2 separate regions of the Homo sapiens genome follow, and region 1 is linked to region 2. Evidence: fine-mapped expression QTL. Tissue or cell type: whole blood. Region 2 holds a variant in brackets; the other region holds the start of a gene. All regions are shown on one strand. Distances are from middle to middle.

What was found. PIP is the estimated chance that this variant, and not a neighbour inherited with it, causes the effect.
Region 1: CEP126 starts here. The variant in region 2 is fine-mapped to the expression of CEP126 in whole blood (INTERVAL, PIP above 0.99).

Annotation. Positions count from the first base shown.
Region 1 is chr11:101,910,923-101,918,805 of GRCh38, reverse strand. It overlaps CEP126 (centrosomal protein 126), which reads right to left and starts at 3,796. Exons shown (of 11, transcript NM_020802.4): 1 at 3,394-3,796. The coding sequence starts at 3,521. It overlaps ANGPTL5 (angiopoietin like 5), which reads left to right and starts at 2,284. Exons shown (of 9, transcript NM_178127.5): 1 at 2,284-2,787. RefSeq lists an enhancer at 3,778-3,877.
Region 2 is chr11:101,953,519-101,961,401 of GRCh38, reverse strand. It overlaps CEP126 (centrosomal protein 126), which reads right to left. Exons shown (of 11, transcript NM_020802.4): 5 at 3,036-3,234. It also overlaps the pseudogene LOC100418997. Among named protein-coding and RNA genes, the nearest start is that of ANGPTL5, 41 kb to the right of the region's middle. The variant A/G (reference allele first, on the strand shown) is at 4,089.

The DNA.
Region 1 (7,883 bases), 43 kb after region 2:
ATGACACCTTCATGAGTACATGATAAGTGTCTTCTCTACATTTCTGTAACTCTCACGCCTGGCATGGTTCTTAGAATATAGTAATGATTTAATAAAAACCTCCTGAATTATTCCCTTGGAGAAAATTCTCTGGGGTAGATATGAGGACAAAAGGCATATGCATTTTTATATCTTTTAGTGCATTATAGAAAACTTGGCTCCTAAGGGGGTTATACAAAAGTATATGCCATTAGAAATGTATTATGTACCTAAGTTTCAAAATCTCATGAGCATGGGGCAGTACCTTTTAGAAACACAAGGTACAAAACTATGTTTTATTATGTATGTATTAGCAAAATACAATTTATTTATTTATTTATAGACAGGGTCTCACTCTGTTGCCTAGGCTGGAGTGCAGTGGCATAATCTCGGCTCACTGCAACCTCCACCTCGCAGTCTCAAGCAATCTTCCTGCCTCAGCCTCTTAAGTAGATGGTACTACAAGCATGCACCACAACACACAGCTAATTTTTGTATTTTTTGTAGAGATATGGTTTCACCACGTTGCCCAGGCTGGTTTCGAACTCCTGGACTCAAGCAATCTGCCTACCTCGGCCTCCCAAAGTGCTAGGATTACAGATGTGAGCCACTGGGCCCAGCTGAATGGGTTCACTTCACTTTCTATAGTAAAAGTAAGATCCCATCAGTGAGCCTGGGGGGAAAAAAAGACAGGTGGGTGGGAGTGTGTGTGTTTGTGCTGTTTGTTGGAACAGACCTGTCAGGGCATCCAAGTCTTATCAAGTGGTAAGACAGTCTATCGAGTGTGATGGAAGGTGACAGAGACCTGGCAGAGGCATTCATAGGAAAAAGAAAGAACCCTGTTCCTGTTTAGGTGAAGCTGGAAACCATCAATCTTTAGTGGTACAATCTGTATTGTTTTGTGATTTTTCTTTGACAGCATTTTTATTATTCGCATGAAGGAGTAAAGGAGCAGGACTATAGTAGTTATTGAGTGGCTGAGGCAGAATGATTGGGGTACAAATAGCCAAAGATGTTGGTGAGAGAAAGTTCAAATAGTTAAGAATAGGGTATAAACTGGAGAGGAAAGGAGAGGCAAGGTGGGTGCTAGGATAAAATGGGAGGGTTGAAGGGTAGAGATATTTATGAGGAAAAAAAGGCAGGTATAAGGGGACATGAGAGACCTTCCTTTTTTTTTTTTTTTTAAATTCCATTTCTATTTGAACTCTCAAAAGAGAAAAAGAGATTGAAATGACAGAACTTTAGCTAATTTTAATTAAATAAACTTCATAAGGTTTTGTTGTTTTATAACCTTTAGAGTCAGAAAATTCTGACTCCAGTGAGAAAATGTCTTCAACAGAAAGCCAGATGGCCTCTGAGTATCATGTTCATATTTGAAATTGAAATGTAAATGTTACCACATACTTGCTTATTTTAAGGCTGTGGTCCTTTCATTTGCTTTCTTTCCTTTTTTTCATTTAGTCATGTAAATTTGAGCACCTACTCTGTGCTAGGTATCCAATGGGAAACATTATAGACACAAAGAACATTCCAATTAAACTTATATAAAAGGTACTTTAGTGTTTTTCCAGCTAGCAAACATAATGTTCTTGATTTAGTGTTATAATCTTTATTATGTTCAAAAATAATTCCTCTGTTCCAATTTAAATATATATTATCTAAACATATATATACACACATATGCAAACTAGCAAAAATATATATAAACCAGCACACACACACACACACACACACACACACACACACACACACACACACATTGTTGGATTTTATCAAAGTCTATTGGTCATCTATTAAAATGTTCATTTATAACTTGCCTAATTTTAACTATATATTTAGCCTTTAAGGATCTTTTTTAGTGTTGTATTTCTTTATAGGAAATGTCATTCTAATTCTGGAATAGAGTCTATTTGGTTGTGTTCATTCAAAGTATTGCTGGATTCTATTTATGAATATTTTCTTTGGCATTTGTATCAAAAATTTATACCACATAAAATTTAAAAAATGAGGCCTACAACCATTTTATTAATGAAAATAACAGAAAATACACTCTCAATGAGCCATTTACAATACTTCCCTATTTTCTGATTTAGAGATAAATCAGGGTCGTGTAATAGCAGTTGTGTCCAAGAAAATATAATGTCAAGAGGCCAGAATTAAATCCATACAGAAAATGATTGTGTTCATTTCAGAGTAACCTTTAAGAGGGCAATTTTGGGGAGCAGCAAGGGCAAAAGCCAAACTGAATGGGGTTAATAATGAATAGATGAGAGGAACTAGAAGCAGCTATTGCAAGCTACCATTTTGAGAACCTGCCCAAAGAAAGAAAAGACTGAAGGGATGGAAGATTGCAGAAAGCATGATCGGAGAAGAGATATTTTACTTTTAGTGAAGCTCTATACACATTTGTCTTCCTCACTAGATTTGTATCCCTAGAACCTAGAACAGAGTCAGCCAAAGAGCAGGCACTCAATACAAATTGTTGACTTGCTGCTAAAATTGTAACAGAGTACAAAGAACATCCTAGAAATTGGAGACAAAGGGGATAAGAAAACAGAGTTAACTTGGAAAGAGAAGACACTCATCTCTGACAAGACTGAAGATGATTACACAACACCATCATTGCCAACCAAGTCCTTTGGGAATACAAAGGTTAAATCCTAATCATCACAACAGTCTCTAAAGGAATAAACCTGATTTACAGATTTTGATAACAAAATACTTCTCCTCTTTCCATTTTCTACAATGCAACCAACAGCAACATCAAAGGTAGGCTTAACCAACTCTTCGAGAAAAGTCAGAGTTAATCCAGATTGTAAAGCGTCCAGGTCCCCTGTTTCTCATTTCCTCTTTTCTGTCGCTCTGACAACAGACTGGGCAGAGATGGAAAACAAAACAACTTACCAAACTGTGTAGCCTTTAGCAGCTCTGGTAAATGCATTTAGGGCTGTGTTAGGATAACTGTTAAAACGGACTCTTTAGGATAGCAAAACATTTTACTTATTTGTGTAATTTCTCTCTCCAAGTAGTACGATAAATCAGGAAGTAGTTAATATGTAAGTAAAGAACATAATGGCATAAAAATATCCCCACAGAATACACAGTTGATGTGTTTTAAAATTCACAAAAATTTTACAAAGTTGAAGAATGGGAGTAGGATAACAGGGTGATGGGGGGAAGCAGCCACAGAATTAGATAAAATGGTATAATTTCAGGTCTAAGGTGAGACACGACAGTTGCTAAAGGAAATATCTGCACTAAGATGACTTGCTAGTTTTGATCACCCTGCGTCAAAGGTAATGGGAATCTAATTGGAAAAAGATGGGCCCCGTTTTCAACATCGCTACCCTGGCAGCCACAGGCTGGGAAGGATACAGGTAAGAGCCAGGTCGGTGATGCCCGCCGCTCTCCCGAGGGCCGAGGGGGGCTCTGTCGAGGTTGTCCGATGATTCAGTGCCCAGTTCCCCGACCGCGCTCCGGGTTCCGGGCCTCCCCGCCAGCATCCTTCACTTCAGCGCCGCCTGTCTGCTCGCCCCCAGAACCTCCCTCATGGCAGCTCCGGCTTCCTCCTCCTCCTGCTCGGCCCCTCCCTACACTCCGTCTCTCAGGCCCCGCGTCACGGGCGCGGAAGGGTTGGCCTCGACAGCCCTAGCTCCCGCGCAGCGGCACTGGTGCCTGTAGCGGCGATGGCAGCTGAGGCAGCGGCGACCTCGCCGGGCAATAGCAGATGGGGCGGCAGCAACCCTGCAGCCGCCATCTTGACAACAACCGACGGCGCGTCCTTGACAACGGAAACCTGGGAGGAGCTACAGGTCGGGGCGGGACGATGTGCCCGAAGCAGCCAATCGCAGGCTCCGGCGGCCCCTCCAGCTTCGAGCGGCGGGTGGCAACCCAAGCATCCCTAGGGACCCGGGTTGTTGCGCGAGGGGTGAGCTGAGTGTTGTTTTAGAGCCTGATGCAGTTCTGCCTCCCTTTTTATGAGAGTGTTTTTGTGGCAGTACCGACAGTGACGAAAGACAGATGTAAAATCCTCAGATACAGGCAATTGCCACCGGGAGGAGTCTGCAGTGATTGTCTGGGGGACAATTTGGAGTTGAATTTGTTAAACTACTGAATCCTGTTGTGAGATTTTGAGTTGTGAGTCTTTCTGTGGCATCATCATCCCCAAACACCGTCTCTTTAAAATGTCTTTGTGAAGTGGAAATTTTCCTTCCCTGCATTCTCTCATCCACTCGGTAATGCTTCTGGCATTCCCTCTGCAGTCGTCTTCCTTGCCTTTGCCCTACTTAGAAGGTCTACATTTCAAAGCCTCCTAATGGTTCTCGCATTGCTGCCAGATTCTGGAAATGGACCATCACAGCAAAACTAGCAATCTCTTGGGAAGATATGCCAAAAGAGATCATCGCATTGAAATGGTTTTGGGAAGTATGGAAAATTAAATGGATTTTTGAGACACTAGTTTATTGGCTATGCAAGTGACAGTTTTGAAAAAGGCTGAATCTTATTGTTGGAGCCTAATGTAAATGCATATATAAATTCTGACTGTATTTCAGTCAGTGTTTTCTTGGAAAAATTCCCAGATTGGAAGCAGAAAGTACAGACCAAATAAAGATTATTCACCCACCATTCAAATGTCTCTGCCTTTGTGAATTAATTTGTTCATTTTAAGATTTCAAATAATAAACTTTTCCAGTTGAAACTGTTTAAAACAATCTTTGCAAACTTGGTTGCAATGACTCAAATTGGAATGTACACTGGCGACAGATTTTAAAGTGCCACAACAAATCCAGTTTCGATTTAAGACACAAAACACATGAACTCTCCTTCAGAAGCATACCAACAGGATAAAATATACAATTCTGACATGAAAAGCTAAATGTATACAACTGGACACTTGGCTATCTTGGCAAGTTTTTAATTGGCCTAGCCACAGGCAATGGCCTTGATTCTATTCCCACTGCTGTCATCACACGTTTGTCTCCCCATGGGTGATCTGAGTAAAGTAGGGCAGTGCAAAGTACAGATGAATATGAGAATATTAGAGTTGCTATTTGGAATATTTAGGCATGGTTAGCTTTCCAGAAGTCCAGCTTTTGCTATATTATTAGTTTGCGATCTCGTAAGTCCTAGGCATCTCACTGCTTTGTGGCTTGGTATATTAGCACTAAGAAGCATAATTTGGTTTCTCAATTGCCTATAAATCCTTTCTTACGTTAACTTAAAAAAACACGTAATTTATGAATCTAGAAAGGAGAGGAAAGGGTTACAGCCTGAAAGGAGGGCCATCCCACAAGCTGGGAGTGTGCCTCCAACTGAAGCCTAAAGAGGCAGGTACTTTGAAGGAGGGATGTTGAGGTAGGAGATTTATGCTGAAAAGTTGGCTAAACATACATAATTTATAGGATATAGGAGGAGCTATGAATATTTATGAAGGTAGTTCTGATGCATGTATATTGAACAAACAGTAACATATGACCCATGTTCATTTTGGGCTGGAGACTTAACATTTAATTGCATTACAATTAGGCCCTATTATGTCTAAATTTTTTTTAGGACACAAAGGCACTCAAGTGAGCAGTCCTCTTAAACTGGCCAGAACCACCTCATGGTTGGTGATGTTCTCATCAGGAGAAAGTTATTGAAATCAGTCTGTTGTCCAATCAAAGCTGTAGTTATGGCTTATGGAACAGAGGGTCAGTTAGTCAGTGTCTGGTGGTGAGCTACGATTGTTTTACTATTGCTTATCTCAAGGCCAGTGTTTGTTTAGCTGCTAGAGAAAAACAGAAAACTTGTGGAAGTTAAACATAGTTTATTCTTTAAGTGTAGGAGTGCATGACTTAACCCTTGCCTGGCATGGCCTTAGGTCCTATTTGTAATTTGATATCTTACTGCCACCAAGTGTCTGTTCCGTCAGTCTAATGATCTCTACTTTAACGTTAATCCTGGTCAATTGTGTCCAAACTACAACAGGAAGAGGATATAATGAGGCATAGCTGACCTTCCATCCCATTATGGCTGGGAACTCAGTTTTAAGGTTTTCCCAGGGTCCCCTTGGCCAAGAGGGGGTCTATTCAGTCAGTGGGGGCTTAGGATTTTATTTCAGTTTAGACTTATATAATTATTCTTCATTCAAATATTGTTTTACGGTAACAACCAAGAAGAAAAGAAATTTCAAACAATGTTGCCAGTTTTTTTAATCATAGGTTTTTTCGACCTTTAAATTCTTTCTTTATTTCTTCAAAATATTAAGTGGGTTTTCCACATTCTATTTAAGTTGTAGAATCCTAGATTCTTATAGAAAGGCAGGGCCCAAGGGGCTCTGAACATCATGATGCTTGATTTTGTCATGACTTTTTTGTCAGTGTTATTTATGGAAAAAGGCTTTAGGATTAGATATTTGGATAATAAAAAATTTGAGGATTTTATCAACTTCATCTCTTGACAGGAAAGGCAGTTGTGATTCAAGCAGTAAAGAAGAATGTTACCCTAAAATCCCTATTTTTTATCAGAAGGGGCATCTGAATTAAATACAATGTTATATTCTTTCACACTTTAAAACCATAAAACAATTCCTTCTTTTGCTAAGGAAATATATATTGAGCACCTACTATGTGCCAAGCACTTTCCAGGTGCTAGGGATACAGTGAATAAAACTTCAAAGTCCTTATGTTCGTGAAGCTTATATTTATTTTTCTTCCCCACTAGAACATATTAGGGTAGTGAAAAGTGCTACATGGAAAGTGGGATAGTGAAGGGGGATAGAGACCAATGTCAGTTCTATCTGTGAGAGGGTGCTCAGGAAAGGCCCCAAAGGAAGGGAAATTAGGACAGAGGTCTGAATGAAGGAAAGAGGTTGCCATTCAAATATCTGGATGAAGAATAAGGGCACAGGGGTCTGTGAGTACAGAAGACTGTGAGGACAGAATCATACTGTTGTGCTCAAAGAACAGCACAAGACCACTGTTGCTGGAATAGAGTGAGGTAGGGTGTATTAGGCAGTTCTCGCACTGCTATAAAGAAACACCTGAGAGTCGGTAATTTATAAAGAAAAGAGGTTTTATTGGCTCATGGTTCTGCAGGCTGTACAGAAAGCATGGCAGCATCTGCTTCTGGGGAGGCTTTAGGGAGCTTTTTACTCATGGTAGAAGGAAAAGTGGGAGCAGGCATCTTACATGGCAGGAGCAGGACTGAAAGAGAGAGGGGAGGTGCCACACACTTTTAAAATGACCGGATCTCATGAGAACTCACTTACTATTGTGAGAACAGCATCAGTGGGGATATCTGCCCCCATGATCCAATCACCTTCCATCAGGCCCTACCTCCAACATTGGGGATTACAGTTTGACGTAAGATTTGGGCGGGGAGGCCTGGCATGGTGGCTCACGCCTGTAATCCCAGCACTTTGGGAGGCCAAGACAGGTGGATCACCTGAAGTCAGGAGTTTGAGACCAGCCTGGCCAACATGGTGAAACCCCATCTCTACTAAAAACACAAAAATTAACTGGGCGTGGTGGCAAGCGCCTGTAATCCCTGCTACTTGGGAGGCGGAGGAAGGAGAATCGATTGAAACTGGGAGGCAGAGGTTGCAGTGAGCCGAGATTGTGCAATTGCATTCCAGCCTGGGTGACAGAGCAAGGCTCTGTCTCAAAAAAAAAAAAAAAAAAAAAAAAAAAAAAAAAAAAAAAAAAAAAAAGATTTGGGTAGGGATGCAGGTCCAAACCATATAATAAGGGAAGTGTGCTAACATATGAGATTGTAGAGGTACATGGCCCAGATTTAGTGGCGACTTGTATTGTATGCAAGGACTTAATGTAAAATCCAACTTTCAATGGAGGGAAATCCATTTGAGAGTTTTGATTAGAAGA
Region 2 (7,883 bases):
ATTCTGAAAAATAATTATTTATAAATTGTATTTTTTTCCTAAAACATTCACTGGACTTGAATGAGGCTCCTAAAAGCTCTGTGATCCTAATGTGAGTTTCCTGTTAGTAGGGGCTACATCTTTTTATAAAACTTAATTTTGTGGACTGTAGTAAGGCTGTTAACTCTGGCTACATGTTAAAATCACATAAAGAACTGTGTAAAATATCTATACCTGGGTCCTGCTGATTTAATACTTGGATGGGGTCCATATACTGGTATTATTTAAATTCCCCAGGTAATTTTCATATGGGTTTAGGCTCAAAAACTATTGACTTTAATGACTCCTTTTGGAGGTTTAGCATAGTAGTAATTTCCATAAATTCCATAGACATTTACATCACTATTTCACTGAAATTTACATGAAATTTGTCAGTCTTTAATAATATTTCAAAATTACTTCAATGTATGGTAAATGTTTAAAAATATTTCTGTTTTCTCACACATACCTAGCATGCATTAATCTACATCACATATATAGAAATAAATTTTAAGAAGACATTAAATTGTATATCTAGTCAAAATGCTGAATGGAAAGAAAATTGATATCCCTTAAGATTTATCATACATTTTAGATTTATCTAAAATATGTAAATTTTAAAAATTTACATACTATGGTATTAGACAAAAGTACTTTCTTTTTCTATCCCAGTAAGTAAACTAAGAAATAAAGTAAATAAATTACAGAATAAAAATATTTTAATTTATATAGTTAGTTCTTATTGATTTAGTATTGTGGAATAAGTTTTAAAAATTATTCATGAGAGTTTTATATTTTTAGCATTTAGTCCCTATTTATCACATCCTTTGGCATACTTCTTAAAGTGATAATCACTCAACCCAAACAGGGAACAAAACAAAGCATAGCTACTTCAATGCCTGTTCTTGGAAATAAGTTGTTTTAACTGATAATGATGATGAAATCAGGCCTGGAAGGCATCCTTTGAGGTTACATCTAGTGAGACACAGAAATTTGCGTTAGAAGATCCTTCTAGATATAAGTATGACATCCATGGCTCTAAGATTTCCATTTGCATAGGTCTGTAATTGCTTCATCTCCCAAATCACCTCAGAAGAAGTTTGGCAACTTCTGATTTCATAAACAATACTTTTTTTTTCTTCAGATTTTTTCCCACCACTAAATAATGAAACATTATGATCAATTTCAAGTTTTGCTTATAAGTTACATTTAGCGGTCCGTCTTATCTTTATTGCCCTGCATGTAACATATCTTTTTTCCCTCTGGCTTTAATCTGATTTTTAGGTGCCTTTCTGTGGTATGTGTGTGTGCATACACTTATCCTTCTTGGAGTTTGTTGGGCTTCTTGAGTCTGTGGATTTATAATTTTCATCAAATTTGAAACATTTCCAGCGATGGTTTCTTTAAACATTTCCATTCCTACTTTGTGAAATTTTATTTAAATTTTATTTTTAATTAAATGTGTTGATGGCTTTATATGGTCTCACAGGTCACTAACAAACTGTTCATTTTTTTCCAGCCTTTTTCTCCCAAAGCTTCAGCTTGGATAATTTCTATTGCTATGTTTTCAAGTCCACTAATCTTTTGTTCTGCAATGACTGCAATGTTAAGTCCATCCAGTCAATTTTTCATTTCTGATAGTATGTTTTTCAGAACTAGAAGGTCTGTTTATTTCTTTTTTCAATTGTCTTTCTTATGTACATTTTTACTTTAATTCCTTGAAAATATTTGTAAAAATACGTTAAAATTCCTTGTTGGTTAATTCCATCATCTCTGTTATTTCTGTCTGATTATATTGACTACTCTTCTCCTGGTTATGCGTCATATATTCCTGATTCTTCACATGTCTAGTAAGTTTTGATTGAATGCTGACATTGTGAGCATTATGTTATTGAGTATTTAGATTTCATAGTCTTCTTTAAGAAAGTGTTGGCCAGGCATGGTGGCTCATGCCTGTAATCCCAGCATTTTGGGAGGCTGAGGCGGGCGGATCATGGGGTCAAGAGATGGAGACCATCTGGCCAACATGGTAAAACCTCGTCTCTACTAAAAGTACAAAAATTAGCTGGGCGTGGTGGCGGGCACCTGTAGTCCCAGCTACTCGGGAGGTGAGGCAGGAGAACTGCTTGAACCTGGGAGGCGGAGGTTGCAGTGAGCCGAGATTGCACCACTGTACTCCAGCCTGGTGACAGAGTGAGACTCCATCTCAAAAAAAAGAAAGAAAAAAAAAGGAAAAAAGAAAAAAGTGTTAAGTTTTTTTGTTTAATAGGTAGCTTGGGTTACTAGTGGATCTTTTTAAGGCTTATTCAGGCAACATAACTACGTAGAAAGCCTAGGTTATAAGGCTTACATCATTTCTTTCCCCTTTTCAAGATCACATCCTGCACTGCCTCTGACCCATGTCTACAAGCAGTTGTTTTATTTATTTTGTTCATAATTATAGTTGTTTATGGTAGGAAGGCACATCACGATAGCTGCCAGGAATCTTCTGTTTTGCTTTCTTAGCCTTGCCACTGTTGATTAATTGTTGGATGAATCAGGCCAATGTTATGAATTTAATCTTATATTGGTTTATTAAAAATCTCATAAATGTGCATAATTATTAATGAAAAATAAAGTACATGGATGGACATGTAGGAAAATCAGCTGATATCTGTATTCAGTTGTGGAAAAAATAAAGTATATGCCCTACTAGGGATAGATTACAAACATCATTTCTAGCAAATTCTGCCATATTTCCATTAAGAAACTAATATCTACATGTATTATAATTTTCTGGTTGCTTTTTATAATACAATCTCTAACAATAATACATTACATTGTACTTTCAAAGGTAAGGAAAAAACTAAAAAATTATTTCTATAGTTTCTATGATGAATTTGTGCTGATTCATCCACACTGTCTTTCATGGCCTGCTCTCAGCTAGTAAGATATTTCTTTAGTGGAGAACACTGCAAAAGTGGAGCAAAATTAGTGCAAGGAATTAAAATATTAACAACATTTTTATAGTTTCATACTTGCAAATTGCTTAGATGTTGATCTTCGAGGAGTTTCTGAGTTTCCTCCAGTTTAAGCTGGAACACATTTTTGCTAGTAGCCAAGGTTGCCCTCATGTTTTCATTCATTTCTTTCTCACAATTGATTTTGGATAAGAGTTGTTTCTGATGCTTGTGATCATTTTTTGATAATGCGGAAGGCAAGGCAGAATCTATAGCTCTGTGAACCAGACATAAAAAGTGCTTAGTACATTTAAATAAAGTTAACTTCTTTCTATATGTATATACATGACACATTAGGTGTAATACGTGTGTGTTTGTCCAGATAACCACATATAAGGATATTGGAGAAATATATAGACATGTTAGAATGAGAATTTAAGGCAATCAATAGTAGAATAAAAGTAGTTGTGAGACTAAAGTACCAGTAAAGAACTCCACCTTCATATAGGAATGCCCAGTAATTCATGGCTTTGATTATTATAACCTATCCCTCTATAATCTGGGATAAGGGTAGAAGTAATTCCTGTGTAGAGTCAGTCCTCAGGTCTTTAAGAGCATTCCTATATGGATAATAATATACTGCATTACCCTTCTTTCTGAGTTGATGTCATGGCTAGTAGGTTAGGAAAAAACTGTAACCCTAATAGTGTTGGTTGAAGATTCAAGCAGATAGAAAATATAAAAATTGCTTGTCAGGGTCAGCAGGAATTTCCTCCCTATTTAACTAGCATTGGGAACTTGGATCGTCCTCAATGGAGGCCAAGTACTCACTTATTTTCAGTTATTTCAGGAATATAAACAGGAATATAAGCATGGTTTTTATGCCACAGAAGCGTACCCTTAATATAGAGTCTACCTTTACTATGCTAAAGGGCCATCCAAACATTTTCAGTGCATGACATCATTTTCTATTAGAATTTTGTATCTTCTGCAAATCTATAGCATGTTAGATTTCAGCACATATACAAAGTGAAAGCAAAGAACTAAAGAAGAGTTTTGGGGGAGGATAGGATGGGGATGAGACTACCATATAGCTGAATGCTGCTGCACTGGGGCTGGCAGTGTGAATCC[A/G]AAGAGCATTTATTCCTAATTCAATTAAATTATTCCCACTTTAATGAGAATAAAAATGTTTTGGAAGGTGATAGTGGCCACATGTGATATATACCTATTCCCTATCTCCAATATCCATATATATATCTTTATTTGGACAGACTGGAGTAGTCAAGGTCAATGATTACTAGATTAACTATCCCTTTGTGATCACACATTTAATCAGGGAGAGCAAGAAGGTATTTAATACAAGTTCCTGAACATTGAGAGTATGTTTCTGTCTCTTCCTTTTACACTTTCCTACTCTTAGATAATCCTTCCCCTTCAGTCGCCCTTCCCAAACAAAATATTGCTATATCTACAAAATATCTAATAAACTCAATTTATTTACCTTTAAAGTTGTCGTGTCTCAACTTTCTTCTCTATTCCTTTCTTCTCTACTCCACTTTCTTCTCTTCTCTTCTCTACTTTCTTCCCCCAATGAGGAGGATTGAAGGGGTGGATAGGAATAAAAGGAGATGGGGAGGTAGAAACAGAAGGAGAGTGAAGAATAGGGGGAAAGGAAGAGGAAATCATAAAGGAAGAAGAAACAGGAGAAACTGGAGAGGGAAAAGCTAAATAAGTTGGAGGCAAACCTGGAGAGGAAGATGAATGCAAAGGAGAGGAAAAAAGAGGGATAGATGAAGGAGGTAAGGATGGAGAAGTAGAACAGGAAGTCGAAGAAGAGGAAAGAATAGATGAGGAGGAAGAAAACAGTATACAGGCTGAAGAAAAGGATGTGGAAGTAGAAGGAGATGAAGGCAAAGAAGAAGATGGAGAATGACAGGGAGATGCAAGGGAGAGAACTGAGGCTGGTGGATGATCTGCAAAGGCCTCGGGCTGATTTGACAATGCTGTGGCTTGTGGAACAGATTGCTGGACTGACTGAAAAGGATCCAAGCTAGCAGGATGTGCAGGCAACGGAGTGACATAAGAAAGAGTGGGGACTGGTGGATAAGGGGGGTGACTGGATAAACAGGAAGGCTTCAAAACAGGGAGAGGTTCCAAAGGGGTTGGGGAAACAACCAGTGGAGCTGGAAGGGAACGACGAACAAGGGTAGGCATTAGAGTGGCTGCAGTAGAATGCTGTGCTGGAAGGAAATGTTTGGGTCTGAAAGTTTTGTAAAATAACTTGTGCTGTGACTCAGGGTCAGGAATGATTGGAGAACTCTGGGGTGCGTGGGGTGGATGGCCAGGTGGGCAAGAAGGAATTGGTGCTGGTAGACGAGGGAAACTGCTAGAAATGCTGGAAGTAGCCGGGGTTGGAGGACAAGGATGATATTTAATTGGGTAAGGCAGTAATGGGACTGGTGCAAAGGTCTTTGGAAGAGTAGAGGGTACAGATGGATGGATAGGCAGTATATGGGGCTGGCGGGCAGGAGAAACAGTTGGGTAGCTAGGAAGAATTTGGAAGTGGTGGGACCGCAATGGGACCCGTGGAGGAGACAGTTGATCAGGTAAGTAGGGGTCAGGTGTGGAGACAGCTGGACAGGCAGGAATGGATCTGCACAGGTGGAAAAGCATTTGGACAGGCAGGCAGAGAGACAGCCTTATTAAGATTATTTTTTTTGGTTTATTGGGCTGCCTCTAGGCTTTTGATTCATGTTATTTTCTTGTCCATAGGGTCCATGTATGATCATCCTTTGATCAACCAGTGTCCTCTCACATGTACTGAAAAACGTACATAGCTTATTCAGGTTCGCCATTTCTTATTTCTTGCTCTTAGAGTATTTTCACTTCTCAGAAGCCTTTTACTCACACAGATACAGGAATATGGGCTGGACAATCTGGTTTAAAGCATGAGTTCAAAGGGCAAATAGAGGTCAATAGATAACTGCTCAGCTCTGGCCAGATTTCTCAGTGTAGCACGTAGTTCAGGATCAACTGCCACACTACAGATACATGGATATTGGAGATAGATATCTAGCAGTATCATTTTATTAAAGTTTAACCATTTAATATGGGAGACAATATATCCCCTTTTACTTTACACCTTCCAGAATGGTCAAGCATATTAGCTTTATGATAAGGATTTGATGGTGACAGAAGACTAATTACTTCTTATATTTTTAACTTTACTCCCTTATTAATATTCTTATATCTCACTATTTGCTGAAGCAGCTTCTATGTTCATGAGAATATATTCTCTGATTTATCTTAGGGCTTAAGCACTAAATGCCCTGCACTTTATCATATATTTTTTTTCTCTTTTACATGATCAGATTGCCAACATCTTATTTTTATCTACCACTAACATTTTCCACATTAGAATAATCTTACTGATATACCTCTGCTTCTTTGTAAGCCCCTTATTTCTTGGCATTACTTTATTTCTTAACACATTTAGGTTTACATTCCACTGAAAATGTATTTTTAATGTGATAGTAGTTTATCAATGGTTTCAGCTTAATTACATTTTCAATAAATAAAAATATGTCCATTAACCTAACACCTGATTCTTAATATTCCAATATCTCATATTTATATAGAATTTCAAATTTTACAAAGCACTTTCATATACATTACTTAAGATTATTGGTTATCTGTGGAGAGAAGTCTAACTTTTTAATAAGTAAATCATAGTGTTCTCACTATACATTGTATACACTTGTTGTTTTCCAAATACATAGAATTTATGTGATATATATATGTATATATAAACATACACACACAGATAGATATAGATATCATGAAGTCAAAGTCAAAATAGTATGTTAAAATAACATGAAAACTAACTAGGTATTCTAATGCACAATGAAGATCATTTCTATAAAACAAAGATGATGTGTGTTATTTAATGATCCTAGCATAGACTTGCTGTAATCATATATACATGTTTGCTGCAGGGAAAGCAAAGTTGTTCTGACAGTTTAACTCTTCTAAGACTTCAAGCAACTGCACACTGTTGAACAAGAAAAACGCCTATGCTTTTCTTCATTCTACAAGAGTTTTTAAAAATTGAAAATATCTGTCTGGGCATGGTGGCTCATGCCTGTATTCCCAGCACTTTGGGAGGCCGAGGCGGGTGGATCACGAGGTCAAGAAATCGAGACCCTCCTGGCCAAAATGGTGAAACCCAGTCTCTACTAAAAATACAAAAATTAGCTGGGTGTGGTGGTACGTTCCTGTAATCCCAGCTACTTGGGAGGCTGAGGCAGGAGAATTGCTTGAACCCGGGAGGTGGAGGTTGCAGTGAGCCGAGATTGCACCACTGCACTCCAGCCTGGAGACAGAGTGAGACTGTCTCAAAACAAACAAACAAACAAACAAACAAAAAAGGAAAATAATTCAATTAACATAAAGTATAACAACTGATAGAAAAAAAAAACCTGAAAGTGAAGAAGCCCTGTATAGAAAATGTACATTGCTTCTACATTAACTGGTTTAGAATTTTTAAAATTAGTCTAAATAAATCCCGGGACTCCCTCTAATTGTTTGTCATCTCTTTTCAGACAAGCTTTCCTATAGAGTACTCTAAAATTATATTGACACATATAATATGGTAGTAAATTATATTACTACCACAACTTCCACTTGTCTCTTAACCCAACTGTTATCTGGCTTCCACCTCTATCACTTCAATGTACTACTTTGCTTGTGGTTAACTAATTACCTAGTAATTGCAAAAATAGGTATTTCTTGACCACTATCTTTCTTGATTTTAATTCCCTTGGTTTCCGCATCATCACATTTCCCATTTATTTTCTTACTTCTCTGGTTGTTCCTTCTCAGGCTCTTTCTTGAGCTCCTCTTTCTTTGCCTGTCCTTTATATGCTA